7 linked regions of the Homo sapiens genome follow. The protein of the gene in region 3 purifies or fractionates together with the protein of the main gene of each other region. This does not show direct contact. Each region holds a gene or a part of one and is shown on either strand. Other genes may lie near its edges. The genes, in order: AHCYL2, FAM171A1, RND3, EMC1, VRK2, ARHGAP35 and LTV1.

Region 1 (4,585 bases), on a different chromosome or scaffold from region 3:
ATCACCAGCTTTTAGTGCAAGCGTCCAAGAGGGAAATAGCTAACTGAACTGTTGCACGATACAGCTGGGGAAAAGGGAGACTGAAACCCATACAAATAATCATCTAATTTAATCAAAGTAATTTTAGAGTTGGGAACTGTTACAGAAGAAACGTCAATCCACTGCCGCTTTCTGCTCTGCTCTCACCAAATCGCAGGCCATAGGTCATTCAGACTATAAAAAGCTCCTACAAATTCCATAGAAATCTGATCAAGTTTACTAAACCTCTTGTTGGGTGAATGGAATTTCAGCTCCTCTAATTGTGTCTACCACCTAAACATGACAGCAGGGCAGTGGATCAGGGCAACTGCCAAGATTGTTCTCTTCCCATCTGCCTCAGTTGTACCTCTCTAAATTATTTAAACAAAAACCACCATGAAACAAACTGCATATTCTTTATAAACTTGACAAAGGGTCTGAATAAAGATTACAACAAACTTTTTTTCTCTCGTGGGGGAGGGAATCACTTCCAAGGAAATGATATAATAAACTCACTCTCCCTTTTTAATGAACTATCGATTTCTTCAATTAACTGGATACTGAGAATGTAGGTAGTACTAGTAGTAGTAGTAGTAGTAATTGTCTTCCTCAAGACATCAAACACACAACTGCAACTTCAGCTCCTAAAGCAGCTTTTTTTTTTCTTTTTTTTGAGACAGAGTCTCATTCTGTCGCCAGGCTGAAGCGCGGTGGCATGATCTCGGCTCACTGCAACCTCCACTTCCCGCATTCAAGCATTCAAGTGATTCTCCTGCCTCAGCCTCCTGAGTAGCTGGAACTGTAGGAGTGCACCACCATGCCCAGCTAATTTTTTGTATTTTTAGTGGAGACAGGGTTTCACCACATTGGCCAGGATGGTCTTGATCTCTTGACCTCATGATCTGCCCACCTCAGGCTGCTTTCTCAGAAAATAAATGCTCACAAAAACACACGGTAAGACCTTCAACCACGCAATAAATAAAAAGAAACTGTCAGTGCAATAACAAAAAAACTACCCAAAAAACACAGATTAAGATTTAGGGCCAGGCGTGGTGGCTGACGCCTGTAATCCCAGCACTTTGGGAGGCTGAGGCAGGTGGATCACGAGGTCAGAAGTTCACGACCAGCCTAGACAATATGGTGAAACCTCGTCTCTACTAAAAATACAAAAATTAGCCAGGCGTGGTGGCGTGCACCTGTAGTCCCAGCTACTCGGGAGGCTGAGGCAGAAGAATCACTTGAACCCGGGAGGCAGAAGTTGCAGTGAGCCAAGACCGCACCACTGCACTCCAGCCTGGGCAACAAAGCAAGACTCCATCTCAAAAAAAAAAAAAAAAAGATTTAGAAGGTTCATCCTGAGTTTCGAACAGAGTACTATTTGAATTGAAAAGCAACAGTTTAGGGCTCTGTTAGTTCCATCACATTACCGTGTAACCTTGAGACAAATTCCTTAATCTCTTCGACACTCAGTTTCTTCAATAAAACAAGGAGAACACTAGCTATCTTCGAGGCCTCTTAAAAGAATTAAATAGCCGGGCGCGGTGGCTCATGCCTGTAATCCCAGCACTTTGGGAGGCTGAGGCGGGTGGATCACGAGGTCAGAAGATCGAGACCACCCTGGCTAACTTGGTGAAACCCAGTCTCTACTAAAAATTAAAAAAATCAGCCGGGTGTGGTGGCACACACCTGTAGTCCCAGCTACTCAGGAGGGCAAGACAGGAGAATCGCTTGAACCCAGGAGGCGGAGGTTTCAGTGAGCCGAGATCGCCACTGCACTCCAGCTTGGGTGACAGAGCGAGACTTGGTCTCAAAAAAAAAAAAAAAAAAAAAAAGAATTAAATAAAACAGTATATGTAAAGCTCTAAGTACAATGCCTGGTATACAGTAGGAATATTCTTCCCTTTGCAATTTTCAAAAGCTCTTATCAAAGATTGACTCATAGAGATGGTGAGGCTTAAAGAATAGGGAAAAAGTGTTAGCTGAACAGGAAGAAAGGGTATATTCCTCAGGTACTCCAAATTTATTTATAACTTTTAAAATATGGATAAATTTCTCAGATTATCAGTAAATTACCAGTGTGAAGCTGCATCATTGATCTTGAAATGCTTTTCTGTATAAGATGCTTTTATTCTCCTCTTCTAAATTTACAATTCTTTCAAGTTCTACATTTGTACAATTTTCTCCCATCCTCTTCCTAAAGCTCTAACTCAGACCTGCCTTACTTTGGTCTTGGGATGACCTAAGCCTTAGCCAGACAGACACGCCTTAGAGTTCACTTAGTATTCTAAAAGACCTCTGGGAGAAAGCAAGAACTCAGCATCTAAGAAGTTAGAATCACTGTGGCATAATGAAAAGGACATGGGCTTTGGAGACGGACAGCCCTGGATTTAAGTTCTACCTCTGACACTTTCTAGATGTATAACCTTGGGCAAGGCACTTAACCTCCCAGGATCTCATTTCTGCATCTATAAAATGGAAATAATGCCACCTACATCTCATAGTATGGTTGTGAGGATTACAGAACCCCTATGACAACTCCTGGCACATAAAAGGCTAATGGCTCACATCTGTAATCCCAGCACTTTGGGAGGCCGAGGCAGGCAGGTCACCTGAGGTCGGGAGTTTGAAAGCAGCCTGACCAACATGGAGAAACTTCATCTCTACTGAAAATAGAAAATTAGCCGGGCATGGTGGTGCATGCCTGTAATCCCAGCTACTCAGGAAGCTGAGGCAGGGGAATCGCTTGAACCCGGGAGGCGGAGGTTGCGGTGAGCTGAGATTGCACCATTGCACTCCAGCCTGGGCACCAAGAGTAAAACTCTGTCTCAAAAAAAAAAAAAAAAAAAAAAAGGCTAATTATTGGTAACTATTATTACAGACCAACTGCCAATTGCCTTACTGAACACTTTTCAGAGCAGTACTCTTGTAACAGGCAAAAGGAGTCATACTGCTACCACATTCCCATGTCTTTATCCAAAACATTCCATTTTAGTACTCTATAATTAACCAAATCAAGAGCTTAAACAATTCAGGACAAGAAGTGCTAACATGGCTCAACTCATTCTCTCCTGACAGCAACAAAGCCAGTGGAAGGTGGATATGTTTGCCAAAAGCAATAAAGGGTCTGTTTGAACACGGTCATTACTGATACTGATGTAAGCACAATCTAGTTGAGGTTCTTGGGCTTGCAGCCTTATTGTCAGAAAGTTTTAATATTTCTGAAATAAATCCTCTCCTGCCTTGTTTTCCCTGCTGTGCGCCAACACTCCTATCACTCATTTTCAAGAACACAAGGAAGAAATCCCTTTCAGCTAGTACTACCTCATTCCCTGTGGAACTTACCTTCCCATTTCCCAAATTACTTCTTATAGAGATTTTTGGCTTGCTGGGTTCACTTGATGTCAACTTATGAAAAAGGACACTATAATTAAATATATCATAGCCACATAACATGATCTGGCCCCCAGAGCATCGCAAGTTACAGGACGGAGGCAGGTGCCAAAGATAAGATGTGATTGAGTAACCTGCACACCATATGTTCCTTCTTATTAACTACTGCACTTGGGAATTCTGGCTCTTGTAAAAAGTTTATTCCCCTTGTGTGGCTGAGCAGAGTAACAAAACTAAGAAAACTGATGATATGTGAATGAAGTAAGGAAAACCATCTATGGAAATGTGACTTAAAATAAATGTTTATACATGAAAGTTAAAAAACAAATGCAACAGTCACCAGTTCCACAGCCAAAGGCAGCTATTTCAATACTAGTATTCTCAGTTCCTTCATATGCTATAAGAAAAACAGTAAGGAGTCAAGGTCAAAGTGGTTATTTACATAGACAATCTAAGAATCAACAAAGGCTCAACAAATCAAAATGTCACACTGCAGTTCCTTGGTGAGATGACTTTCAACTTAGGGAAAGGGCAGTCTTGGGCACTTATTTTGATTTAGCCAATTCAATATCAAGAAGGTTAAAGATTGGGCACCTGAAAAGCAGCTCAGCAATGCCCTGAATTTCGTCATCCAGCTGTATCCTTGCCCAGAGCTTCACCTGCTTAACTTTCAGCAGAGAAGTTGTTTTTTTGGTGCAATTAACATTGTAAGGCAAGCTCAGCCCTGCTTTACAATAGCCTTGAGGCTGCTGAGTATATCTACAATCATGGAACATACATTTGGTGCTGAAAAAACAGGAAGATGGTTCAACGACAAGGAAAGTGGTCAAGAAGCACATCTAGAATTAAGAAAAACAGACTCCAGTATGCTGGTCTTTGATTTTTTAACTTTTTTTTTTTTTTTTTTTTTTTTGAGACAAGGTCTCACTCCAGCACCCAGGCTAGAGTGCTCATTGCAGCCTCAACTTCCTGGGCTCAGGTGATCCTCCCACCCCGGCCTCCTGAGTAGCTGGGACTATAGGCACACACCACCATGCCCGGCTCTTTTTTTTTTTTTTTTTTTTGGAGAGAGAGGTTTTCACCATGTTGCCCGGACTGTTCTCAAACTCCTGGACTCGAGCAATCCACCAGCCGTGGTTTCCCAAAGTGCTGGGATTACAGACGTGAGCCATGATTT
Region 2 (5,116 bases), on a different chromosome or scaffold from region 3:
GACAAAATAAACATCATCCAATAAGATGTCTGAGCATGAAGTTCTTAACCTAGCTCTGACCTTCCTTTTGGCACATAAATAAGAGTGCTGGGCTTCAAAAACACATCCCTAAAGAGTACATCTGCACAGCTTACTGCTCCTCCAGGACAGCTCTCTCTATTGAACCCAGCCTCATTACAGTTTTGCAAAAGAGGTGAAGAAAATCAAAATGGGTCAATACTTTTGAACAACAATTTTGAAAAATTCCCAGAAAATAGATTCGATACTATAAATGCTCCAGAGCAACTGAGAGGAAACACTTAATAAAAATAGTCATAGTCTAGAGCTAGTTCAAATTCATGATAAACAAAGCCAACCCTTACCGTGACAACTGACTGTGGCATTGGAAATCACTTTGCCAATTCGAAGCAGCTACGGGAAGAGAGTCTGAAGCCAAGCCTCCAATTTTATCTTGAATATATAAAAAGCAAAGTAATGCCAAGAAATTCTGCAGATGCTAGTTTCATCAGATGACATAAAGACTCATTTAATCAAAAAGGTGTCATTTAGTTCTAGCAATCTAGTTGGACTACTACAGTATATGATTTCCGTCTGTTTGAGGTCTCTAAGCAGTTTTACCAAAGTAATTGCCAAATCCTGTTGGTGCATAATATGTATGTGCAATGCTTGTTCAAAGAATGATTCAAACAACAGATTCTACATAAAAGCAAGATTCTTACAAATTAGCTTTTGGGGAAGGTAAACATTGAACTTTTCTTCTTAAAATGCAAGCCAATGATGATCACTAAAGGTTGCGTTATGGTGTAGGTATTAGCTATGGTTGATGCTTACCTACTCAGCACCATCTGAGCACCAACTGTATGCATAACAACCTACAACCCACTGTGGGAAATGCAAAGTGAAATCAGATGCAGCATTTGTCTTCATCGTGTACATGATCCAGGAAAGCAGAGAACACATGAATTTTAAAACTACGTCATACTACAGCAAGTGAACATTAAGATGCTTTGAAGAACTCAGTGAGTTGGGACTGACCTTCTAATGTCAAAGGAGAAATTGTCCATTCCCTTAAAAATGCTGCTAGCTCAAAATCCAAATGCCAGGTAGTGAGACCTGATTTCTGAAAGAGTTCCTGGGCTCAAGGCTTTAAAAAGCCATCCTTACAGTAGATAACAACAAAGGAAGTAATCCAAGGGGTAAACTATGCCAAGATACTTGATCTCCCACTCCAACCATACCCTAAACTAAGCCACTGCTAGCCATGGCAGAAACCTCTTCTCATGTTGACCATTTCCCTCCCATTTCGCATAATATTCCATTCCTGAGAGGCGGATTTTTAGCAGCAAGAGCTGGGTAAAACGTGGTCTTAGACCTAAACCTGTTATATATATATTGAATATATATATATATATATATTGAAGACATGCCTTCCTTTCTCTAATTCAGAAGTGCATGAATTTAATATTTCCATATATTGGTATTTCAAGTGCAAAAGGAAAAATTCAACTTGCTCTTTAAAATTAACGGCCTCGCTGAAGTGCAAATATCATTCTCTAAAATAGCTGATTCAAAAAAGCAGTAGGGTATTAATAAAAGAAGCTGCAATGCAACACTGATGATCTAATGTCCTAAACATTCGTTTCCTACACGAAGAGACATATAGGTCTTTTTGTATTTTGTAGCTGTCCGCTCTTCCATGATATGCATTACTAAAATTATACACAATTCATAACGGTCATATTCTACCATGGCCATAGAAGCAGCAATGCATTTAAGATATACCAGGAAATGATACTGCAAGTGCCAGAATATGAAAACCTTCAACTCAACATGTAGGCAACAAACTCAACCCAACAGAGTGTTGGCAGAGCCTTTCCTCCCCGTAGCAACATCGTGGTGGAAGCCCGGGCGTCTCTGCTCCCAGGCACCCTGAGCATGTTAGCCGAGGAAAGGGGGTTCCAGCAAGGAGACCCTCGGATGCAGCACTCCTCGTTTCTTTGGCCTGCAGGGCCAACTTTGCAGGACACACACCCTTCTGAGGGGACAGGCCTCGGGCTCGGAATCCCGGGGTTCTGCAGGGCTGCAGGGAGCTCCCTCGCAGAGACCTGAGCCCCCGGCAAGAGTCCAGGCAGCGGTGCCCTGGGTGAATGCAGAGGCTCATCTGCGGGCCTCAGTGGCCCTTTTGAAAACGCCAGCAACAGAGGAGTCCTCGACGCTGTCCCCACAAAAATGTGCCAAGCAAGCCTCAGGGTGGGTGTGGGGGACTCCCCTCAAAAAACGCTGATTTTAAAAACAAAAGACAGGCTCGTGGCCATTCTCAGAGGCGACCACGTTACTCCCAGGGCTGGAAAGCAGATTTGTGGAGGCCAAAGACGAGACAAAAGGCACGAGCTGGCGACAAACTGATCTGGAAAGGATTTTTCTTTTTTTTTTTTTTTTTTTTGGTGAGCGATGAGGGCCTCCCAGTTCAATTCTTTCTTCCCTTACAGAGAAGACTCATGGGCCGCTGAGCAAATCCCTTATGGTCTGGAAGAGACGTCAGATAGGCAGGGGGAGAGAACCCCCCAAACTTTCCCAAACTGCGGCAGGCTAGTGGCTAGTGGCGGCAGCGGACCTCGGGGCCCCGGGACACAGGGGGCACCCCGGGGCGTCAGCCACCCCCTCCCGCCACAACAAAAGGCCCCAGCGCAGCCCAGGAGCTGGGACTTCCCAGACCCGAGCCCGGCGTGGGGAGCCGGGAGCGCGATCGGGCGGCGCGCCCTGGGCGGCCCCTCTGTCCGCGGCGACATGGGAGACAGAGCCGCGTGTCCGAGGCGCGGCATAAAGGGGACCCCCGGGCGCATCCAGACGAGCCCCCGCCGCAGCGGCGACAGCAGCTGGAGCTGCCCGCGCCCCCGCCCGACCCAGCCCCCGATCCCCGGCCCCCGAAGCCTCCGCCCGGGTCACCCCGCGTCGCCGGCCCGCGCCGCCCCCTCGGGAGCGCGTTGCGGGTGCTGCAGGCCCGGAGGCTCCCGATGCGGCTCGGGCTGCGTCGCCACCACGCGGCCCGGGACCCTCCCGCCGCCGCCGCCGCCGCCGCCGCCTCCGCGCCAGGCCCGGCGCGACACAAAGCCCCCGGCCCCGCCGCCGCCCACTGACCTTGGGCTCCGGCGCCGGGCTCCCGCAGCGTCTTGGTCACCGCCTTCCAGACGTGGCAGCCCAGCAGGCACAGCAGCAGCGTCGCGGACCTGCTCATCTCCGCCGCGGGGCCGGCGGCGGCTCGGGCTCGCCGAGAGCGGGCCGGGCGGCGGCGCGTCACGGGCGGCCGGGCGCCGCGCCCCCCTCCATGTCGCTGGCTCCGCGCGCCGGGCCCGCCGCCCGATTGGCCCGGCCCCGCCGCCCCGGCCGCTCCCTCCCGCGCCCCGCGCCGGGTTTCCCCGAAGAGCCGCGGCGGCGGCGGCGGCGGCGGCTGCTGCTGCTCCGCCAGCTCCTTAACCCCTTCCTGCCTCGCCCGCCGCCGCCGCCGCTGCCCGCGCCCAGGCCCCGGGCCCGTGGTGCCACCTGGCGGCTGCGGCGCCGAGGGCGCCCCCGCCCGGCGCCGCTGCGTCGCGCCCCCAGCCCGACCCCCGGCGACACTGCCCCGGCGCGCCCCATCCCCGCAGCCCCGCAGAAGAGCCAGACCTGCCTTTCAGGGCGGAGCCCTTTTCATCACACCAGGTCACCCAAGGGGCCGCAGGAGACATTGTATCTGGGTGTGACCCCCCCACCAGGTGCCATCCTAATGTAGTTGTGTCCCCCAACGTAGATTTCACACCCAGTGTTAAAGATCCGCAAAAACACTCCCCAAGCCAGTATAGACTGCAGTAGGCCTGCAGTACCTACGTGTTGGCGGGTGGACAGCTTCAGGAGGAATGGTACTTGGATGGTTCTAGGGGTTAGGGTGGGGAGGAAATCCACATCTTTTGAGGCCCTAGGTGCTTTAAAACTTTCTGTCCTATTAAAGAAAAAAGACTATTCCATGACACGTGTGAAAGCACAGCAAAGAAGACCCTCTTTGGAACCATCGCAATAGGTATAAGCCCTACCATGGGATTCTGCAGTCGGGGAGAAAGGTTGGGTTCAACTCTGAATACAGCAGGAACAAGTGGGGATTTATAACCGAGGACCAGGGTGGGATGCAGGGAATGAAAAATTATAAGAGGAAACATCAGGGGGAAGGGGGATTCTTGAAAGTCAGACATCCCCTGGCAGGGCTGGGCAGGACAGGGCGGATGGGGAAGCTGATCAGATATCCAGGGTGGAGGGTTCTTGGTAAACTGACTTAGCAGGGTTCTTCCTGAAAGCAGATTTTACAAGGAAGGGCACAACTGAGCCTAGAAGAAGGTTCCGGAGCCTGACTGTAGTTCGGTCAAGCAGAGACTCTTTGTCCATCTTCACAATACATGATCTAAGAGGTAGTTAGCATTATCCCCCCCATTCACAGATGAGAAAAGAGGCTAAAGAGGGTTAAGGAATTTGTCCAAAAGTGCATACCTGGTCAGTGGCAGAGCCAAAATTCTAATAAAACAGTCAGTCTGACCCCAAAATTGAAACTCTTCACAAAAACCTCCAGACTTGGCTGGGTGTGATGGTTCATGCCTATAATCCCAACACTTTGGGAGGCTGAGGTAGGTGGATGGCCTGAGTTCAGGAGTTAAGAGACCAGCTGGGCCAACATGGTGAAACCCTGTCTCTACCAAAAATACAAAAAAATTAACCAGGCATAGTGGCCCATGCCTGTGGTCCCAACTACTCAGGAGGCTGAGGTGGGAGGATCGCTTGAACCTGGGAGTGGGGAGGTTGCAGTGAGCCAAGATCGTGCCACTGCACTCCAGCCTGGATGACAGACTGAGACCCCGTCTCAAAAAAAAAAAAAAAAAAAAATCAAAAAATAAAACCACCAAAAAAACCACACACAAAACAAAACCAAACCTCTAGACTTTCCTTGAGCCTAGGGACCCCCTCCATTCCAACCTCAACTTTTCTTTCTCTCAACCCACTCCTGTCGGTATGCCTTCCACACAACCTTCACCTCCACTTGTCCCTCTCCACCTTCTCTTCCAACTAGCACTGCGGTGACCTTCCGACTTCCACTGGG
Region 3 (4,585 bases):
CTGAGCCACGACTAATTCATTTGGCAGAGCCCGCCAGGCACCATGAGCTAACTGGAGAAAGTATTGGTTCTTGGTGTCATATTTACATGCAAAAGAACTGGATTAATGAGGAAACATCTGGTTATTTCGGGTGTTATCAGAATGACCAATTTGGATGCTTCATTGAAATGTGCAACTTAGCAAGAAACCAGATTGGAAAAAAAACAGCACTAAATGCGGCTAAAAAAAAAAAATCTACAGACAGATGTAGACTTAGAAAGAGCATTCATACTGCCCCCTCCCCTTTTTAGGAGGTTCCTTGGTTTAAATGGAAATTACTGCATGGTGGACAAATCTCCAAATGCAGTTTTATGTACTGCTTATTGGAAACCACCATACAAACTATCTGTTTTACCTTAACCCAGGTCTTTTACATAAGAGTTTCAGTGTGAAAACTCGTTAAGAATTAAACCTAGTTTTGAAACCCTAAGCTCCAATGGATCATTACTACCTGATGAAATGCTTGGTTTCCTGCAATTTCACAGTTGATATTCAAATCCCAAGCATCCATGCTTCTCTGGCTCCTTCATAAATTCTTAACCTCTTCCTTTCTCCAAGAACGTTAATTTAAGTTATAATTCTCAGCTTCCAGAATCTTGTTTTATCTGAGAGCCACTAAATGTAAGCGAGTTTCCACGTGGAAGAAACGTTAAAAACTTCTTAGAACTTAGTCAACTTCTAGAAAGGAAGGGAATTGTGGTGGGCCTCAATGACCATTAAGTCATGAGTTAGGGAGCCTGGGCTGCCCTTGTGGCCTTCAAGAACTCTTTGGATCTTGTTGCTCCTTGAAAAATCCAGGTTTAGAACCTCCGGGCTCACCATCCTATAAACAGGTATTACAGCACTAGACAGGAGGAAGTCTTTCTATGTCCTCTGTTTGTCCTGTGGGTATTCAAAGAAGGTTGTCAGGGAAGAAGGATGTCTTTACCCTGTTCAAATCTCAGTCTACTGGCATCTCCTCTCACCTAAACACCTGACACTTAATCCGGGCTTCTCATTTGATTTCTTTTGTTAGTTTGGGAAAGCCTGAATATTTTAAATTTTATTGTCACTCATGTTTTCACCATGTCTGTCTTATCACATGGTGAAACTGTGAGTACCTAAGGGCAGAAGCTGCTCTCACCCAGCTCTGTACTCCTCCCATAGCATCTAGCAGATTGTATGCACACAGAAAGCACTAAACCATGTTTACTGGTTTTATAATCATTTTTATGTCTTGTCTAGATGTGTTCATTTATATGCTAAATCACCAAAAAAAAAGGGGAGGGGGAGAGAGAGAGCAGTGATCCCCTTTTAAGCTGCTTTTCTGGATTAATTATATACTAATCTCCAATACTGCTGAACCATTTCCATCCCTGTTAAGAAATATTTCATTAGAGAGCTTGTCACCAAGACCATTCTTCATACTTGATGTACAATAATCTAAATATAACAGCTTAGATAGACTTCTGTTTATAGAGAAGTTTGTCCTCATATTAAGGCCATTAGGTAACTAAGATATTTTTCCTCTCTTTTTCTCTAAGAAATAAAGGATACCACCTTAAGTGTTAGTAATGCTAAAAACTAAAATAGGAAGTACTAACTTTAGCACTCAGGGCTTAAAAGAAACTTGGATCATGACAAGATTCGAAAGAGTGTTCATGAGGCAATAGCATAGTTATTGTGGGGAATTTAGCAGCTGAATTGAATATGTTAAAAGTAATAATAAGCCTTAAATAAAATGTGCATTAACTTGCCTTGGTTAAAAAGCTGGAATGAATGATTATTACTCCCTAAATCACATGTGCTGAAATTACACTGCAATCAAATCTCTTAGGAAAAGATACAGTGATCCTTAAATGACTACATTTCTATTATTAGTAGGCATTTGGCTTCATGCTACAAATTACTTCTATGCTTGGCAAATGTGGCCAATTTTGAAGCACAAGATATTAGAATTACTTTGGTCTTACTTATTACTTCACAATTGAAACTATTACCCATTGTTTGGCAGAAACTCATTGGGTGAAATTTGAAAATCAATGGGAGCATTTCTGCAACTATTAAGAATGTTCATTTTATAATGAAAAATATTTTTTAGGAAAATGAAGAAGTTATGGGCCTTAAAAATTCCCTCTTTTAGATGATTCCTACAGCATTTTTACAAAGGTTTTGTTTACTTTTGTTGGGGGGGCTGGAGTACTGTAGCCCTAAGAATTGACTGGCAAAATGCCTTTTGTAGTTGCTTTAACTGGTGTGTGCAATGGGCGGGGGTGGGGGGGGCGGTGCGGGGGTAGCTGTTTCCTATCTGAAGAGGATCCAGAGGATCTATAAGCCCTAGGATGTCTGACAAAGGAAAAACATTGCAACCAAGTGGAAAAGGGCACTGGGGTTCAAGGACCTGACAAAATTAGGTGCATCATGAGTTGTTAATGAAATACACGCTAAACCAGAAGAGCTTCTTTTTCTCCATTACCCCACCTGAACTGTCTGCTTCTTAGGAGCAGGACCATGCTTAATTAACACTGTATCTCTAAGGTCTTGACAGAGGGCCTGTTTATAGTGGATGCGGGAAAAAAGGAAGAGATGGATGGAGAAAGGGAGAAAGGAAGGAAATATTAAGTTACTGTGCCTTAAAAAGCAGGAAATTATTTTTTTTTCTTGGTGCAAAGAGACTTCACATATCCTACTTTCACTTGGTAGTCTTTCTCACATCCAAATTGGCAGAGTTTGCCTATGCATGATCATGACTGCTGGGGGCAAAAGTAGACCCCTTATGAGAAGCTGTCCAACTAAAGAGGCCAGATAAGAGAGGAACTGTTTCTGTCTTCTAAATGGTTGCCCTTCTGCTAGGAGGGTAAACAGGACAGGAAATATCATTCAAAGGACAATGTTCATCCCGTATCTCTCCCTATATAAGAGCAGTCAGGCACACCCAATTTTTCCTATATAAGTCTCTTTCACAAAGTTCTAGGAGGGAAATAAAAAGTGCAATTTATCTGACATTTAGAACTTTACAGACTTGGCTGGGATCTTTTCTCCAGAGTTATATTGATGGCCTTTGGAAAAAATAAATGTATCAAGAGGCATAAGGCATATGCAATTATTTTTACAATCTGAACTAAATAAATGTTTTAGTGGGCAAAGAAAATGTCAAACATTTACCAAAAAATAGTCCTGTCCAGAAATTTGCCATGAAAAGCTTGGAATTAAATGGAAAAATGTTAAAGATCCTTGAAATAATTAGTTGCTGATTCAATGGTTCCTGCTAGATATAAACAACAAATCACTTTTGATGGAAACAGGCTATTCTTAGAATTTAAGTAAGCAGTGCTTGGTGACTGTGTTTAACTAACTAACATTTCACCTCATGAACAACATAATGGAATTCTAAATAATTCCCTTATGCCTCTTTTTTCCATTTGTTTAAATCTAAATTCTAACTAAGATTTCATTACCGGATAATTTTGCAGTACAAAATTTTCTTCATCACATTTTCAAACCTTTATATTTTAGTTAAACATACATAAGTTTTGGTTTCATTAAATAAAAAGACAAGTGATTATTTCACTACAAATTCATTTCAGATGATTATCTTTAATTCGATGAAAGGCAATGTTTATAAAGTTGCCATTCTTTGTGCACAGGTAATTCAGTGTGAATAAATGTCAGGGAACCTCATCTCCTTGGCAACTATGCATATCATTACTCATTTACTCATTCATCAGATTTTATTGGATAACTGCTGTATGCAAGGCATTGTGCTATGTGTGCAGAGTCTACGAACTGCAGAGTTTTGATTAAATGCATGAAGATACCTGAAGTGGTATTTACCTGCACATACGAAGGACAGCCTCCAACTACAAACTGCCCACATTTTGGTTTATGTTCTAGCCTTTATCAAACAATGTGCCTTTTCTCCCCTAAAAGAATCAATTTAGCCCTTTAGGCATCTATTCCGAAATATCCATTGGTGGTCCTGTCACTCTTGAAGCTTGAGATAGGAAATGTATAGCCCAGCATTCCTATAAGCCCACCCATTCCCCCTCCCTGTCCAGATGGGTTTCATTCCTAAATCCACCAGGAAGCCTGGCTCTGCCCAGAACCTGGCTTGCTTTGCAGGCTGTGAAAACCCCAGCACGGGATGCCAGATCCCCTAAGACTAAGAGCTGAAGCCAACCAACATCCTGGGAAACAAAAAGACCTGCCTGTCCAGCGTAATAAAGCCAAGAAGTGTACAGCTGGGAGAGATCCTGCACATCATCTAGCTCAGTGTCCTCTTTTTACAGATGATGAAAATGAGACCCAGGGAGATAGGGGATTTGCACACAGAAATCCATGGTAACCAGGAGCTAAGATCTAAACACAGCTTTGTATCAACGACTGGTTCAGACACACTGCTCCACCCCGTGCCAAAATAATTTTTATCGTGCATTAGGTCCAAACAGGGCTGCCGGTTGGGGCAGGGAGTACTGGTGCTTATTATCGGTACCACACCAGCTGTGCCATCCAGTAGGCATAACAAATACATACCATGATATGTCTGGGAATCAGAGCCCATTAAGTA
Region 4 (3,500 bases), on a different chromosome or scaffold from region 3:
TGTCTCCTGAGAAAAAAAGAGTACAGGGGACCATAAGGAGCTAAAATCACCATTCCACAAAATGCTCCGGAAAAAAAATCACAGGGCTATCACCATCACATTCATTTTAGGACACATAAGACGTGTTTGTTAGCTGGGCGCAGTGGCTCACACCTGTAATCCCAACACTTTGGGAGGCCGAGGCAGGCAGATCACCTGAGGTCAGGAGTTCGAGACCAACCTGATCAACATGGAGAAACCCCGTCTGTCTCTATGAAAAATACAAAATTAGCTGGGCATGGTGGCGCATGCCTGTAATCCCAGCTACTCGGGAGGCTGAGGCAGGAGAATTGCTGGAACCCGGGAGGCGGAGGTTGCAGTGAGCTGAGATCGCACCATTGCACTTCAGCCTGGGCAACAAGAGCAAAACTCCATCTCAAAAAAAAGAAGTGTTTGTTAGTGAAGAGCTCTGACCAAAAGCAAGATTTCCATTCAATGTAGTCAGATGCAAAGAGAGTAAGAGAAGAAAATTAGCTCCTAATAGATAATACTAACTCTTCCTTCTAAATGGAAGCACATATTTACCTTCAGATAAGTGACACCCAAAAGGGCACCTTACCTTTCTTTTTTTTTTTTTTGAGACGAAGTCTCACTCTTGTCCCCCAGGCTGGAGTGCAATGGTGCAATCTCAGCTCACTGCAACCTCCACCTCCCAGGTTCAAGCGATTCTCCTATCTCAGCCTCCCGAGTAGCTGGGATTACAGGCACCTGCCACCACGCCCGGCTAATTTTTTTGTATTTTTAGTAGACATGGGGTTTCACCATGTTGGCCAGGCTGGTCTCGAACTCCTGACCTCAACTGACCCACCCGCCTCGGCCTTCCAAAGTGTTGGGATTACAGGCGTGAGTCACCACGCCCGACTGAGATCACAGCACTTCTTAACAGCACAGAGCAAGCACCTCCTTTGTACTTGGTAGCCTACCATGTGAGGCTAATAATTTTCTCGATTAGGATCGCTTGAGCCCAGGAGGTCGAGGCTGCAGTGAGCCGAGATCACACCATTGCACTCCAACCTGACAAGACTCTGTCTCAAAAAAATAAACAGGCCAGGCGCAGTGGCTCACGCCTATAATCCCAGCACTTTGGGAGGCCAAGGTGGGTGGATCATTTAAGATCAGGAGTTCGAGACCAGCTGGCCAACTTGGTGAGAACCCATCTCTACTAAAAATGCAAAAATTAGCTGGGCGTGGTGGCACGTGCCTGTCATCCCAACTACTCGGGAGGCTGAGGCAAAAGAATCGCTTGAACTCAGGAAGCAGAGGTTGCAGTGATCCAAGATCGTGTCACTGAACTCCATCCTGGGCGACAGAGTGGGCCTCTGTCTCAAATAAATAAGTAAATAAAATACTGTTGTTTTATCTGGATATAAAAGTAATGCCTCCTTATTACAGAAAATGAGTGGGTGGGGGGAACACTTATAACAATTTAAAAATCTCCACCAGGCACGGTGGCTCACACCTGTAATCTCAGCACTTTGGAAGGTCCAGGCATGCCGAACACTTGAGGTCCGGAGTTTGAGACCAGCCTGGCCAACATGGTAAAACTCCATCTCTTATAAAAGTACAAAAATTAGCTGGGCGTGATGGGCACCTATAATCCCAGCTACTTGGGAGGCTAAGGCAGGAAAATCGTTTGAACCCTGGAAGCGGAGGTTGCAGTGAGCCAAGATCATGCCACTGTACTCCGGCGTGGGTGACAGAGCAAGACTCTGTCTCAAAACAATAAAAAATAAATAAATAATAAAAATTTTAAAATGTAATATATCACTCTTCTGGATTGAATTGTATCCTCAAAAACTCCTGTGTTGAAACCCTATCCCCCAGTGTTACAGTATTTGACGGCAAGGCCTTTAAAAATGTAATTATGTTTTAATAAAGTCAAAAGGGTGAGGCCTTAATCCAATAGAGGAAGAGACATCAGGGATGTGTAAGCACAGTAAAGGCCATGTAAGGATACAGCAAGAAGGCAGCCTTTTGCAAGCCAATGAGCGAGGCCTCAGAGGAAACAAAACCTGCCAATGCCTTGATCTTGAATTTCCAGCCTCCAGAACTGTGAGAATATCAATTTCTATTGTTTAAGCCACCTAGTCTATGGTATTTCATTATAGCAGCCTGAGAAAACTAATACAACCACCACTATAGATACACTTTTTATTATTTGAGATGGGATCTCACTGTGCTGCCTAGGCTGGATTGAACTCCTGGGCTCAAGTAATACTCCCATCTCAGCCTCCCAAGTAGCTGGGATTTCAGGTGCATGCCATTGTGCCCAGCTTTGTACATATACTTTTAACGTTTTACTATACAGTCATGCACTGCAAAACAATGTTTCAGTCAATGATTGATCGCATATACAGCATATACAGTGGTGGTCACACAAGAGTATAATGGAGCTGAAAAATTCCTATAACCTAGTAACATTGTAGCTGCTATAACATTGTAGTCGAATGCATTAATCACGTTTGCGGTGAAGGTGGTGTAAACAAACCCACTGTACTGCCAGCTGTATAAAAGTACAGCATATTCAATAATGTATACTACATAATACTTGACAATGATAATAAATGACTGTGTTACTGGTTTACGTATCTACTTTTTATGGTTAGAGTACTCCTTCTACTTATTAAAAGAAAATTAACTGTAAAATAGTCTCATGCAGGTGCTTCAAGAGGTATTCCAAGCTGGCCGCAGTGGCTCATGCCTATAATCCCAGCACTTTGGGAGGCGGAGGCGAGCAGATCACCTGAGGTCAGGAGTTCAAGAACAGCCTGGCCAACATGGTGAAACCCCATTTCTACTAAAAATACAAAAATTAGCCAGGCATAGTGCTGTGCACCACAGTCCCAGCTACTTGGGAGGCTGAGACATGAGAATCACTTGAACCCGGGAGGTGGAGGTTGTAGTGAGCTGAGATCATGCCACTTCACTCCAGGCTGAGCGACAGAGTAAGACTCTGTCCCAAAAAAAAAAAGAGGTATTCCAGAAACAGGCATTGTTATCACAGATGATAGCTCCATGGGTGTTACTGCTCCTGAAAACCTGCCAGTAAGACAGTATGTGGAGGTGGAAGACAGTGATATTGATGATCCTGACCCTATTTAGGCCCAGGCTAATGTGTTTGTGTCTTAGTTTGTTTTTTGTTTGCTTGTTTTTTGAGATGCTCTTACTCTGTCACCCAGACTGGAGTACAGAGGCACCATCACAGCTCACTACAGCCACGACCTCCCAGGCTTAGGTGATCCTCCCACCTCAGCCTCCCGAGTAGCTGGGACTACAGGCACCCACCACCATGCCCGGCTAATTTTTGTATGCTTTGCAGAAATGGGGTTTCGCCATATTGCCCAACCTGTTTTTTGTTTTGTTTTGTTTTGTTTCTGAGATGGAGTCTCGCTCTGTTGCCAGGCTGAGTGCAGTGGCGTGATCTCAACTCACTGCAACCTCCGTCTCCCAGGTTCAAGTAA
Region 5 (4,585 bases), about 92 Mb from region 3:
CTTCTGCTTTGGCAAAGTATATTTTATTCATTGTCACAACTAATTATTGCCACCATCCCAAACTCATAATAAAAACTTCATAGCACCCCCCTACCATCACATGTTTAAAATGTCTGACAATATATTTTGCCATAATTTGCATTGTTATAACTGACAAAAGAAAGGTTATTCTTACAGCAATGAAAGCTTGTTCTGGTATGTAAAACAAAGCTCTAAGGAAAAAGAAGATCAGACTGGAGAACCAAAGCCTAATTGAGTTTGCAGTGCCATACACAGCACATTCTGTCACTTACAGAGCCCATTGTTATCAATTTCACCAAAATAGCCTCTACTCCTAATAACTGATGTCTCTAGGGCAATAATCCTTCATTCTCTAATAATTCCACAAAGGGAAAAGATTTCTATATTGCAAGAAGTAAACAATTTGGAAATGGAGCATGCGAAATAAGTAATTCTTACCATTCGGATACCTAATTGCAGGACAGTTGACTTTTTAAAGGTACCATTCTGGCCTGAGATCTTCTGTAAATCTATTCCTAGTCTTTCCATTACCATAAATCTGTAACTGTAAGAAAAAAGCATCAAAAAGAGATCATCCTGAGAAAGTAATGCTTGAAACTGTCTATTTAATTTGAAACAAGAAAAATTACGCTCAACCTAACAACTAAGTATAATGCAATCTAAACCATTAGAGAATGAATGCACGTTCATAATTCTGCTATTCTTTTGCAGAAACTGCTCAATATTTACTTTGCAGCTGATTTTCTATAAGAGAATGCTGTACTGAACCATTCACACTGTTTTACATAATGAAAAAATCTTTCTAAATTAGATAGTACTGAATGCAATTCATTTTGACTCCATGACTTTCTTGCCATATGGCCTTGAACAAATTATTGTACACACTTGATTTTTTTTTTGAGACAGAGTCCCGCTCTGTCACCAGGCTGGAGTGCAGTGGTGCAATCTCAGCTCACTGCAACCTCCACCTCCCAGGTTCAAGCGATTCTCCTGCCTCAGCCTCCCAAGTAGCTGGGACTGCAGGCATGCACCACCACACCCAGCTAATTTTTGTATTTTTAGTAGAGACGGGGTTTCACCATGTTGGCCAGGATGGTCTCGACCTCTTGACCTCATGATCCGCCTGCCTTAGCCTCTCAAAGTGCTGGGATTACAGGCATGAGCCACCGTGCCCAGCCACATGAATTTTATATTTGTTTGTTTCTTGATAAGATCATATATACCGTCTCTATACATTTATAAACATGTCTTTAAGTGCACTTCTTCCTTTTCTGTTCTGTTTGGCACCTTCCATACCTTCTTTCCTTCCCTTCATTTATATATCCACATCAGCCCCTATTCTATATCTATGCATGCATACACAAACACACACACTTAGGAATTTGTTTTACAAAAATGTGATCATATTATAAGTATTTTCTCCATCTTACTTTTTTCAATAGTATCTCATCAAAATCCTTCTAAGGCAACTAGTATAGCTCTAATGGACTTCTTTAATGGGCTACATATGACATGATATGGATGTATCATGATTCAATCAGCCATTCAGTCCCCCAGTGGCAGTCCTTTACTTCAAGATTACTGTTTGCTCATTTTTTTAAATTTAAAGCATTTAGAGACCATTTCAACAAAGTACTGACATCTGAGCTTATTCTCTCATCTATGGAATAAAAATAATATCACCTATTTTAACAGGCTATTCAAAGGACAAAATAAGATAAAGTATATAAAAGTCTCTGGCACAAAAGGGTAAATATAAAATGACACACTTTTTTTCTTTTTTCAAACACTATTAATAAATTATATATAGGACTAGCCATATTTGGTGGTTTTAAAGATATTTCTATAACTTATTTGTTGTGCTTCTCCTCAAGAGATAGAACTGAATTCTCCTCTCTCAGGACCAATGGATCTATCTAGTGACTAGCTTCTAGCAAAGAGAATAAAGCAGAAGCGATAATATCCCTTTTAAGATTAGATTACAAAAAACGATGACTTCCTTCTTGAATGCACTTGTGTGCATGCTCTCCCCGTCCCCCAATTAATTGCTCTAGAGAAAGCCAGCTATTTTTCATAACACTCAGGTAGCTTATGCAAAGACCCACATGATCAGGAAGTAAGAAGGCCTGCCAACAATCACATAAGTAAATTAGAAGTAGATCTTCTTAGGCCTACCAGTAGCCACATGAGGAACCCTGAAAACAAATACTTCCCCAGATGAGCCTTGAAATGAATGTAACCCAGCAGACAGCTGACTACATATCCTTATTAGAGATCCTGATCTAGAATCATACAGATAAGCCACTTGCAGTCTCCTCACTCACAGAAACTAAGACAATACAAGTTTGTGGTTATATGCCAATATGTTTTGGTAATTTGTTACATGGCAATAGTTAACTCATAGACCACATAAGGAATAGTTATAAAGAAATATTTGATTATAATAATTCCATTTTACCTTCTTCCCTTGAATTCAGTCAGACCAGATCCATAAAACAGAGGAATTCCTAAATAATCAAGTTGTTTGCGTTCTATCCACTTTTTGACTACAAAGACAAATTTATTTTTAAAAAGATTCATGTTATTTGAAAAGATACTTGTCACCTTTCTACAGACAAATTTATTTAGCTAACCAAAAAAGTAATTAGATCTTCCTAGAAGATAATTTTTTTTCAATCAAACATCTCTATCTAATGGCCTCAAACTGTTACCACTATAATTAACAAAAAATTAGAAATTTTTAAATTAAATCAATAAAAACAAGTCATAGGCTTTGTATATTGATACCATATATATTAATGTTTCAATCTATAAAAAGAATTCATTATCTTATATACTAGCTAAATTTCTAAATATAACATATGTTAACCACCAAAAGATCAGTAGAGAGATGGCTTTTTCTTCCCTATTACTTCAAGATTTAAAACCATAATGGACCAAAAAAAAAAAAAAAAGAAAAAAAAAGCAGAAATTGGGCAGAAAAACCATCTTACTTTGAAATTACTTTATACAAAAACTGGTTTTGATTAGTTTACAAAAAATCAAATCCACTTAAATAAAGTTAACTTTCATCATTTTTTTCATGACTCTAGCCTATGTTTTTTATGTTTAAGACAGCTCTACTGATAAACAATCAAGTTTAATGGATTCTATTTGTCACTGTGACATAGTTTAAGCAATTAGTAAAGATTACAGTCTTAATGTTTAGAAGACTTTATTAAGAAAAACTAAGTTAAATATTGAGGTCAGACCCATCACTCTTATTCTTAAACATGATGTAAAGGACCTTGACTATACAGTCATTACTCCTGTCTACTTCTTTAATGTTTTTCTTAGCCCATCTATATCACATTTATAAAATGCTGTTATTTTTCCTCTCTGCTTATATTCATTTCCCATTCAAGTCTTCTAACTGGTCATTCTTACACTTGGTATCCAGCTCCAATTAATTTTCCAGCATTCAAGTTTCTAACATTTTCTTAAACATCTTAAAGTTTAATCATTTTCACATTTCCACACACCTTGCCCCAATCCATTCTACAATCGTTCTTTTTTTATACATATATCTACTTCCCATTTTAATGTTTTTTCCTTATAGCCGTCCTATCCAAATGGTTTACTGTAAAAGAAATAATTTCATTCTACTATCTTTTACACTTAGGGAACTCTTGGTAGCTTAGATTAACAACCTAACATTTTATGTAAAGTAGTAGAAACAACTTTGACTTAAAATATATAACCCATTATGTATGTCATGTCAAGATTTGTATACCATCTGTCTTGCTTTTATATGTTGTAACAGTTAACTGTATCACTTTACAATAAAATTTCTATTGAAAAGAATTTTCCAGAAGGCCAGAAAAAGACCAAAATATCAACACTCACTTTAGCAAGCACATATATGGAAGTAGCTTGCTTTGCTAATTTTACTTACTACAGTCTTTTTTTGCAACTCTCTGATAAAATTTAAGTTCTGAAAATAACGGGCCATTTTCTTGATATTCCTATAAAAAAAAGAATAATTAATTTTACTAGAAAAAAATAATCCCAAAGATGGAATTGTTATTTCAACTGTGAAAATATGAACATATATATGTAGTATATAATAGTACTTGAATCACTTTTTATAAAACATAGGCACCAGATTTCCACTAAAAATCTCAGAAAACACTAAATAAACTTGAAGAATCTAATTTTTAAACGACATATTGTACCACTATCCCTATACAGTCTTACACATAAAAGTAGTTTTCTTACAGAGAACACTTACTAGAAGCACTGAGAACTGTATACATAAACATATACAACACTCACTGTATACCAACATATACATCCAGGTGATACACAGCAAACTCTCCTTGTGGTCCACTCACACATGATACCTTTACTGAATGGTCTACTATATTTCATTCATTATACTAGGTACAGGGGACACCAAAAAGAAATAAAACCCTATGCTTGCCTTTAAGGACCTTACCATCTTGATTAGAGAGGTGGAGAGGGTGGGAGGGCATTTGGGAGGGAAAGAGAAAGAATAGCTAGATAGATAACACACCAGGGTAAT
Region 6 (4,585 bases), on a different chromosome or scaffold from region 3:
GGAAGCCTGACATTCCCCTCTATTGGCCTCAGGGAAAGCTCATACATTTTACCATCTATCACATACTTGTCATCATTTGTACAAAGAGCTCGAATCTCATTGGCCAACTCTCGGGCAAGGCCGTCTTTGCCCAATATAACCAAGTTGATTCTATCAATGTTAGGGTCAGAGAGTGAATTTTTCTGATTCCGGTCAGACGGCCGGATAAACCGAGAACTAATCAAGTGCTCAATCTTAGCGTCCACACAAGCTGGGCAGCTGGGGCATGTCTCCTTTGTTGGGTGGTACACAAAATGAATGTGTTTCAGAATAAGGGCATCACGCTCTGCTTGGAGCTTTTGTAATGCTTTAAATCGCTGTTCCTCTCCCAGAACATCCTGAATAACACCCATCTTCTCCTTGCTGGGCTTAGCATCCAGCTCCAGTTCATAAAACAATTCTGAATATTCCAAAAGCAACTCCTGAAATTCTTCCTTTGCTTTATCTATAATTTGCTTTTGGTGTTTGCCATAAATATCCATGTATACAGATTCCTCCAGCCACTGGTAGAAATCCTCATTCATAATAAAACTACGGGCCTCTTCCCAAGGCTTTCCGGGAGTTATGAAAGGAGAAGTCTCCAGGTTTTCTTTAAACGCCCTTCGCATCTCAACTCTTTTCCTTTCGTTCCTCAGCTTCTCTAAGTGGGCCTCGTATAGCTGCTCTGCAGGGACGGTATCCATTAAATCAAAGGGAATCCGTTCGTTTTCCATGTTGTCAATGTGACTGGTGGCATCCCATGGGGTCTCTTCAAGCACAACAAACCACTTCAAGAATTCTGGCTTGGTTTCTAAGAGCTTTTTGGCTTTTATGCAGCTTAGGTGGTCTATTTCATCTAGATTAGGTATAAGAGCTTCAAAAGCTAATGGCAGGGCTGCCAGGTACAGCTTTCTCCTACGCTCGATATGCTCATGCTTGAGGCGGTGGATGTGCTGTAGAAACAGCTTCTTGGCTTTCTGAGTCCCTTCCAGGTAGACATAGTCCTGGTATTCTGGAGAGGCCTGCATCTTTCGGCTGACACTCAGCCAGTTCTCATTGTGGTTTTTCACAATGCGACTCACCAGCCACTCATACTTGTCTTTTGCTGTAGCTATCTGCTGACTCTGCTGCTTGAGAGCTTCAAAATAAGGAATGATTTTTGTCTTTCCCCGACTTTTATCAATGAGTTGCACTAAGGTGCTGAAAGCCAAGTCCACGTTTACATTGGATCTCGCTGAGGTCTCCACAACCTGGAGGTTCTTTTTGCTTAAGGCAAAAGTATGTGCATCTCTAATGTACCGCTCAACACCTTCGTCACACTTAGTCAGGACCACCACTATGGGCTTTTTTGTTTTTGCAAGCTGATTGTAGAGATTGGAGACAAACTTGAGCTGGTCATCAAAGTTCCTATTCATGCCCCTGCTAACATCAATACCAAGAAGAAAACCATCAACCAGCAGCTTTCCGTCTGGCATTTGTTTCTGCTCAAAGTCCTGCTCCAGCCCCAGCTGGTCAGTGCAAAAGTACATGAGTTTTTCAGCTGATGCAAGCTTGGTCGCAGCAGCTCTCTTGATATAGGGCTGCAGGGCCGTGCTTCGATGAGGTTGAAAAGTCTGATCATCAATAAATTCAGTCTGCTCCACAATGTGCATCTTACATTCCACACAATCCTCCAGGGAGCGGCTAACTTCTCCCCAGTAGAGAAAGTGGTCATTATTGACCACTCGCCCTCCAAAGTCACTGGTGCTGAGGACGGAGGTATGGTCCAAGTGAAACTCGTCAGCACTCGGGCGCACGAAGCGGTTGCACAAACAAGACTTTCCAATCCCACACTGGCCCTTTTCCTTCTCGGTCCCAGATAATCCCACCACACTGATGTTGTAGGTGGGAATTCGGACATCTTGCTTTCTTGCCATCATCATCGTCGACACATCCTGCCACGATCAGCCACTTCTGAGATCAGATTAGTGTTTCCAATGGACCAGACAGCTTCCTACATTATTAGTGGGGGTGGGCTGGACATGCAGCAAAAATGCCAGGTCCCATAGTGTTGTATACCAGTATGGTCACTGTTCACCACCTCTCATCGCCAAATAGCCAACATTTCTTCCTAGATGGGGGAAAAAAAAAGAAAACCCATCAGCATCATAATTTTAGAACCAAATTTTAATCAATTAACTACAGTAAAAATTAATTTTTTATTCAACAAATATTTAGTAAACATCTCATGTGTCAGGCCTTGTGCTGGGTGAAGATACAAGAGCAAGTAAGACTCACATCTATGTGTCCCCAGAGAGGTACAATCTAGTCCAGTGGAGGAAAACATAAGTAAACAGTGTGCTAAGTGCTAAAACAAGGGTGTGAGGGCTCCCTGGAAAAAGGGCTGATTCCAGGGTTAGGGCAGGATAGGGACAAAATGAGCCTGGAACATCTTTTTATGCAAGAAAAAAAACGATGGAGCATCTCACAAGGACACAGAAGCCAGCCTGAAGGGGCTCCCACTGGCCAACTCTGGGACAATTTGAGCGCCACAATAATTAAGTATGGTAATGAATTATAAACCCACTGCAAAAACAGGAACCTGGGCCGGGCGTGGTAGCTTACGCCTGTAATCCCAGAACTTTGGGAGGCCATGGTGGGCGGATCACCTGAGGTCAGGAGTTCAAGACCAGTCTGGCCAACATGGTGAAACCCCGTCTGTACTAAAAATACAAAAATTAGCTGGGTGTGGTGACATGTGCCTGTAATCCCAGCTACTTGGGAGGCTGAGGCAGGAGAATCATTTGAACCTGGGAGGCAGTGGTTGTGGTGAGCTGAGATCTCATCACTGCACTCCAGCCTGGGCAACAGAGTAAGACTATCTCAAAACAGCAACAACAACAAAACATGGAAGCAACCCAAAGTATCCACCTACTCATGAATGGATAAGCAAAATGTGATATATACATACAATATAATATTATTCAACCTTTATTTTTATTTTATTTTTTGAGACAGAGTCCTGCTCTGTAGCCCAGGCTGGAGTGCAGTGGTGCGATCTTGGCTCACTGCAACTTCCGTCTCCTGGGTTCAAGTGATTCTCCTTCCTCAGCCTCCCGAGTAGCTGGGATTACAGGCATGCGCCACCGTGCCCAGCTAACTTTTGTATTTTTAGTAGAGACGAGGTTTCACCATGTTGCCCGGGCTGGTTTCAAACTCCTAGGCTCAGGCGATCTGCCTGCCTTGGCCTCTTAAAGTTCTGGGATTACAGGCGTAAGCGATCACGCCTGGCCTATTCAGCCTTTAAAGGGAAGGAAATTCTGACAACATGGCTGAATCTTGATTGTGCTAAGTGAAATAAGCCAGTCACAAAAAGACAAATACTATATGATTCCACTTATATGCAGTACTTAAGAGTAGTCAAACTCATAGAGACAGAAAGTAGAACAGTGGTTGTCAGGGGCTGGGGAAAGTGGGAATGAAAAGTTACTGCTTAATGGGTACAGAGTTTCAGTTTTACAAGATGGAAAGTGTTACAGAAATAGTTGCATAACATGAAAGTATTTAATATCGCTGAACTGTATAGTTAAAAATGATTAAAATGGCAAGTTTTATGTTTTGTGTATTTTAACACAGTAAAAAAAAGATTGAAAAAAAAAAGAAATGCAGGAAGGATAAATCCTCCCAAATAAAATATTTTATCAATGTAAATCTATAAAATCTATCATGTGAAAATGTCTCCACTTTTAGGAAACTGACACCTTAGTATTTTGAGGGGAAGGGCCATAATGTACGTAACTGATCCCACTGGAAAAATTATGTATACAGAAAGAGTAAGAACACAAATGGGGTGGTAAATTGTTAACAACACATGAATCTGAAAAAAAAAAATAGATGAATCTGGGTAAAGCATATAGGATATTCCTTTGTGCTATTTTTACAAGTTTTCAATCATTTCCAAATAAAAAAAAATTAAGTGTGTAAATACGAGATGGTTTCCCTGACAAGAATGCAAGCTCTGTGAGGCCTGTCCCCTGTTTAGTTCTATTCTGTGTCCTCAGCCTATGACACAGTGCTTGACACAAATATTCACTGAAAGAATCAATAACTGAATGATGATTCAGCATATTAAAAGGTCCCCAAGCCCAGCCTTTCAGATTCGGGAAAGCCTTTCTGTAGGAAGTTCCATCTCAGGTGAGACCTGAAGTATGAAGTGCATTTAAGACAGAGGGACAGAGTGTGCACAGACCCTTCCCTCCGCAAAAAAAAGCACTGCCAGTTGGGAGAACCAACTGGAACAAAGTGTGTGTGGGGAAAGAATGGGTAAGATGCATTAGCAAGGAACCAGGGACTGGATCAAACCACTTTAAGAGTTTGGATTCCTTCGCTGGGCGCGGTGGCTCACGCCTGTAATTCCAACACTTTGGGAGGCCGAGGCGGATGCATCACGAGGTCAGGAGATCAAGACCATCCTGGCTAACATGGTGAAACCCCGTCTCCACTGAAAGTACAACAAATTAGCTGGGTGTGGAGGTGGGCACCTGTAGTCCCAGCTACTCAGGAGGCTGAGACAGGAGAATGGAGTGAA
Region 7 (4,585 bases), on a different chromosome or scaffold from region 3:
TGAAGGTTACAATTCCCCTAACTAGATTACCAAGAATAGTTTCCCCACTTTCCTCTCCAAACAGGAACTCAAAAGATATAAAGATTTGATGGTAGGAATACAAAAATACAAAGATCACATTCATCCCTTCCTAATAATCCCTGATCTGAATTCCAGACATATCTCAATTGTTTCAATACTTTACTGGGGATAGAAAAATCCTACATCATTTCTTTATGTTTTGCAAAATACATTTATCCATATGAAAAGATAAAGCAATTAAAAATACCTGAAACTGGAGCTGCTTTATTTAACAATCCAACATCTTCCTCAAACTCTGAAGCAAACACTGATGAAGGCAACTTAATTCCAGTGCTCTTGAAAAAGAAATTGCACAATGGTTAGGTTTATTTGGAAATTCTTCTTAACTAGTGTACCGGGTTGAAGTCCCCCCCAAATCAATGTCCATCCAGAACCTTAGACTGACCATATTTGAAATAGGGTCCTCTCAACTATAATAAGATGAGGTCTTACTGGACCATGGTCCTATAACGAGACCACATGAAGACAGAGACTCACAGGGGAGAATGCCATGTGCAGATGACAGCAGACTGGAGTGAGGCCTCTATAAGGCAAGGAATTCCAAGGAATGATCACCGGTAACCTTCGGAAGTTAGGAATGAGCCATTCAACAGCCTCTCCCTCTAAGCCCCCAAGAAAAAAACCAAACCTGCTGATACCTTCATCTCAAACTTCTGACCTCCAGAACCATGAAGGAAGAAATTTCTGTTGTTTTAAGTCACCTAGTTTGTGGTAATTTGTTACTGCAGTCCTAGGAAACTATTACAACTACATTCTGTGTTCTCTCACCTGTGCTCCAGGTTGTATATATGTTAAACATGTATATTCCATCATAAACCCAAAAGTAACTCTCTATAATACATCACAATGCCTTCTCTAGCAAATTATTCCATTTATCCCTCAGATCCCATGAGGTATCACCATGTTTTACCAAAAGAACAAAAACTAGGAAAGTTTAAATGGCCCACCTGCCTGAGAATGATCAGTAAGTGAGATTCTGGGATTCAAATCCCAGAGTTTCTTAACTCCACTTGCCTGAAATTTCAAACCAAAATTAAACATTTTCCTCTTAAACTAGAGATAATGTCCTAATCTCTAGTAATGGCACAGCCCTTGTATGAATTGGCAATCTTAAATCCTCGGGTGGTTATAAATCATTTTGCTCTGTCCTATGTCCCCTTGAAATCTCTTACATACAGTGATTTCACTCTATTCTTTGGGGCATCACCTCATTTATAGTTAACCAAAACATAAATGACTGCAACCGCTCATATAGCTAGTCTATATCTACTACAACCTTCATACCCATGGCGAGATTAAGCTCCTTTAATAGTTTTTCATGTGACCTTCTTGAGTTTCTGACAGGTCTCAATTTTTCACTCTGTATTTAAGGCCCTGGTTCTCAAGGACCTATAAAATCAAGGCCTACTCTGTGTATCCAAATTTCTCAGTTATTCTATATGACCATGCAAATCAAGTTCATTCCTCAGTCATGTAATAATGCAAAACACTTTACTTGGCGCGCATGTGCCTGACACGGAACCACAGTGCTCACTGTCTCGGCAGCCTGACTGAAAATGTTCCTTCTCCTGTCAACAGTACCCACCACTTGGTGGCCAGCTCGGTTCCTACCCTCCGACATGAAGCCCTTTCTGATCACTGTCCTAGAACTTCCCTTTGTGTGAACTTCCCGCCTTCTTCACACGCTGCAATCTACTCAAACATGTGCTTGCTAGCCTACATTCTCTGACTGGTTCTTATGCTTGTTTCCTCTCCTTGACCAAACAGTTCATAACGTGAGGACAACCGCCATGTGTTATTTATCTCTGTGCACCTCACCACCTGCCCTATCCTCAGCCCAGGAGGAGGCACAAAGCTGGAATGTGCATCCTCATTGGCTCACTGAGAAAGCTCTCTGAATTGGAAGCCTCTGAGGAGCATGAGTAAAGGCTACATATGGCAGTGTACACACAGCAAGATGTTATGGCTTCCAAAATGAGTTTCTCAGTAGCACAAACATGGGCAAAGATGTTATTTTGCTGTAGAGTATATTTTTAAGAAAACAGCTTTACTAAGACATCATTCACATACAATTCACCTAAAGTGTACAATTTAATGTTTTTTAAGGATATTACATTATTAATTACTTAAAATTGTAGTAAAATCTACATAGTCTTTTAGGTTTTTAAAAAGGTACCTTTGTGATATTTATCCTTAGAAGTTTGGGGTTAAACACAAGGTCAGTTTGTGTTAAATGAATTTACCTTTGTGAGATATTTTTCAAATCTTGAAAAGTAGTCAATCACATACACGATTAAGAGTTTAAAGAGAAATTACTCTGTTTTTAGAGGAGTGCTGTGTTTTCATTGGTTGCAGTAGTTCTCAACTACATGACATTTGCCCAGCTACTTTCCACAACAGCACCACCATCTTTCTTTCATGTCAAAATCAGGGCCTGCTCAAGCATCAATCATTTCTATACTGCCTTTTTACACTGTCTTACACTGTTTCTAGGGGTTATTCATTATTTCTAATCTACTCGAATTTGGTGGTGTGTTACAAATTAAAGTAAAAAAAGTATATGGGACTAATCCATATTTTTTCATAGCTCTTCAGAAAACCAACCACACTTCTGTTTTTAAATACAATTCAGCTGTCCCTGCAAAGGTCACTGAAGTGTCCATTTAAGAGCCTTATCCTGTTAAAAAGCCAATTAGTGATTGCTTTTACTCAAAATGAATTAAGGATTAAAAGTTAGTCTTATACGACCGGGCGCGGTGGCTCACGCCTGTAATCCCAGCACTTTGGGAGGCCGAGGCAGGCAGATCACCTGAAGTCGGGAGTTCAAGACCAGCCTGACCAACACGGAGAAACCCCGGCTCTACTAAAAATACAAAATTAGCCGGGCACAGTGCCACATGCCTGCAATCCCAGCTTCTAGGGAGGCTGAGGCAGGAGAATCGCTTGAACCCGGGAGGCGGAGGTTGCGGTGAGCCGAGATCGTGCCACTGCACTCCAGCCTGGGCAACAGGAGCAAAACTCCGTCTCAACAACAATAACAACAACAACAAAAGTTAGTCTTGTACTGGTCAATACAAGCCAGGCAAGACTTTACTAAGAATTTTCTCCCTTAGATAAACAAGTTGAGCCACTAAGGAACCCCTTCTCTCCTTCAATAGGTTATAGAAGCAAGTGAGCCAATAAGTCCCTACTACCAATAAAGCCTTGAGGAAGAAGGAATAAAGAAGTTGGTTCTCTATGACAGAGATGTGGTGGGATTTGGGGCGTTACAAAAGAGCCACAACCTACTTAGTGAACGAGCAGCTGCAGTTATTACCTTTCTTTGGGATGGTATCCTGAAACCTAACCTTTCTGAGTCTCCTTAAGCAACAAGCTATTGCCTATAAGAACTACAATCACATCTTCCCCAAGGAAAGGAATGCCTAGACCATGACAGAATTGGGGAATGAGGAGCAGGGTAAACTGGTGCCCTTTCTATCTCTTACCTTTTGCTTATAAACCTAATGAATGTCTCCTTTTTTTAAAGTGCTAGGTGATATAAAAGTTTCCCACAGGAAAATTTACTCTACATCAAATTAAAAATAAGGTCACGGAGGCATACAACATGGGCATTCTTAACATAAACAGGGGAGAAAACAGAACTTAGACTAACAGCACTAATTTCTTATAAACACGTACTATCATTTGTCCTGAAAGAGAAGGTATTAAAGTGGACCGAACATTTGTTTACAAGACAGGAATGTTATTATCATCCACTCATTCTGTTTGCTTATGAGTAGCCTGCAGCTTTTACAAAAGTGTTAAAGATCTGAATATTCCACAAAAGTTAAGTCCTATCTTAGAACAAGAGTTTATGATCCTGAAAACAGTTATGTTGTTAACATGTAGAATGTCAGCTGCTTTTCTCCTATTGAAAAGTGCTGTCTAACATGGCCATGTCTATCAATCAAAAGTTCTGAACCTATAAAAAGGCTGTTACTGTTGACACCTGCCACCAGAGAAGACGTGACCTATTCTCTCCTGATGGTATACACATGCATACACATATATAATTTTAAGTGGAGGCGTGGTCTATCTTTGTGCTCTTCATACGGACACCATTTCTTGCCCCAAACAGATATCTTGATTCAAAAATGATTTCTTCACCTCACTCCCACAATTAAATTGCTGAAAAGCCTTACTGGAATTACTAGCGTTTCTTCTTTCTCCTCTCTCCTGTTGTGTGCACTGAAGGTACTTGAGGGAATAAGCTCTGAAGGCCCAGATGGTTCCTTCAGGTGCTGCAGGTAGTCATAGTCGTCATCAAAGAACACTCCATACTTCCTCTGTTCTGCTCGCCTTTCTTCATTGTCTATCTATAAACGAAATGGAATTAGTACTTTCTTCACTATCTATAAACAAAATGGAATCAGTAAGCCTTCCAAGGATAAGGCATGGGAATATTACAATGAGTACAGCTTTCCAAGTAGGAGGCAGATGGCACATGAACATTTTGGCTGATGGG

The links.
Region 1: the proteins of RND3 (region 3) and AHCYL2 purify together in Homo sapiens (affinity purification with mass spectrometry, with the first as the bait; one large-scale study listed by BioGRID). This does not show direct contact.
Region 2: the proteins of RND3 (region 3) and FAM171A1 purify together in Homo sapiens (affinity purification with mass spectrometry, with the first as the bait; one large-scale study listed by BioGRID). This does not show direct contact.
Region 4: the proteins of RND3 (region 3) and EMC1 purify together in Homo sapiens (affinity purification with mass spectrometry, with the first as the bait; one large-scale study listed by BioGRID). This does not show direct contact.
Region 5: the proteins of RND3 (region 3) and VRK2 purify together in Homo sapiens (affinity purification with mass spectrometry, with the first as the bait; one large-scale study listed by BioGRID). This does not show direct contact.
Region 6: the proteins of RND3 (region 3) and ARHGAP35 purify together in Homo sapiens (affinity purification with western blotting; 2 studies listed by BioGRID, with this or other methods). This does not show direct contact.
Region 7: the proteins of RND3 (region 3) and LTV1 purify together in Homo sapiens (affinity purification with mass spectrometry, with the first as the bait; one large-scale study listed by BioGRID). This does not show direct contact.

The regions. Positions count from the first base shown.
Region 1 is NC_000007.14:129,227,345-129,231,929, reverse strand, and holds part of AHCYL2 (adenosylhomocysteinase 3), read right to left. Parts: intron 1-4,585. UniProt on the Homo sapiens protein: May regulate the electrogenic sodium/bicarbonate cotransporter SLC4A4 activity and Mg(2+)-sensitivity. On the contrary of its homolog AHCYL1, does not regulate ITPR1 sensitivity to inositol 1,4,5-trisphosphate.
Region 2 is NC_000010.11:15,367,818-15,372,933, forward strand, and holds the start of FAM171A1 (protein FAM171A1 precursor), read right to left. Parts: upstream 3,473-5,116; 5' UTR 3,236-3,472; coding exon 3,139-3,235; intron 1-3,138. UniProt on the Homo sapiens protein: Involved in the regulation of the cytoskeletal dynamics, plays a role in actin stress fiber formation.
Region 3 is NC_000002.12:150,480,436-150,485,020, forward strand, and holds part of RND3 (rho-related GTP-binding protein RhoE precursor), read right to left. Parts: intron 1-4,585. UniProt on the Homo sapiens protein: Binds GTP but lacks intrinsic GTPase activity and is resistant to Rho-specific GTPase-activating proteins.
Region 4 is NC_000001.11:19,245,025-19,248,524, forward strand, and holds part of EMC1 (ER membrane protein complex subunit 1 isoform 1 precursor), read right to left. Parts: intron 7-3,500; coding exon 1-6. UniProt on the Homo sapiens protein: Part of the endoplasmic reticulum membrane protein complex (EMC) that enables the energy-independent insertion into endoplasmic reticulum membranes of newly synthesized membrane proteins.
Region 5 is NC_000002.12:58,084,321-58,088,905, reverse strand, and holds part of VRK2 (serine/threonine-protein kinase VRK2), read right to left. Parts: intron 4,026-4,585; coding exon 3,956-4,025; exon of another isoform or gene 3,907-3,955; intron 2,568-3,906; coding exon 2,480-2,567; intron 566-2,479; coding exon 460-565; intron 1-459. UniProt on the Homo sapiens protein: Serine/threonine kinase that regulates several signal transduction pathways.
Region 6 is NC_000019.10:46,916,031-46,920,615, reverse strand, and holds part of ARHGAP35 (rho GTPase-activating protein 35), read right to left. Parts: intron 2,129-4,585; 5' UTR 1,941-2,128; coding exon 1-1,940.
Region 7 is NC_000006.12:143,845,902-143,850,486, reverse strand, and holds part of LTV1 (protein LTV1 homolog), read right to left. Parts: intron 4,437-4,585; coding exon 4,263-4,436; intron 357-4,262; coding exon 269-356; intron 1-268. UniProt on the Homo sapiens protein: Essential for ribosome biogenesis.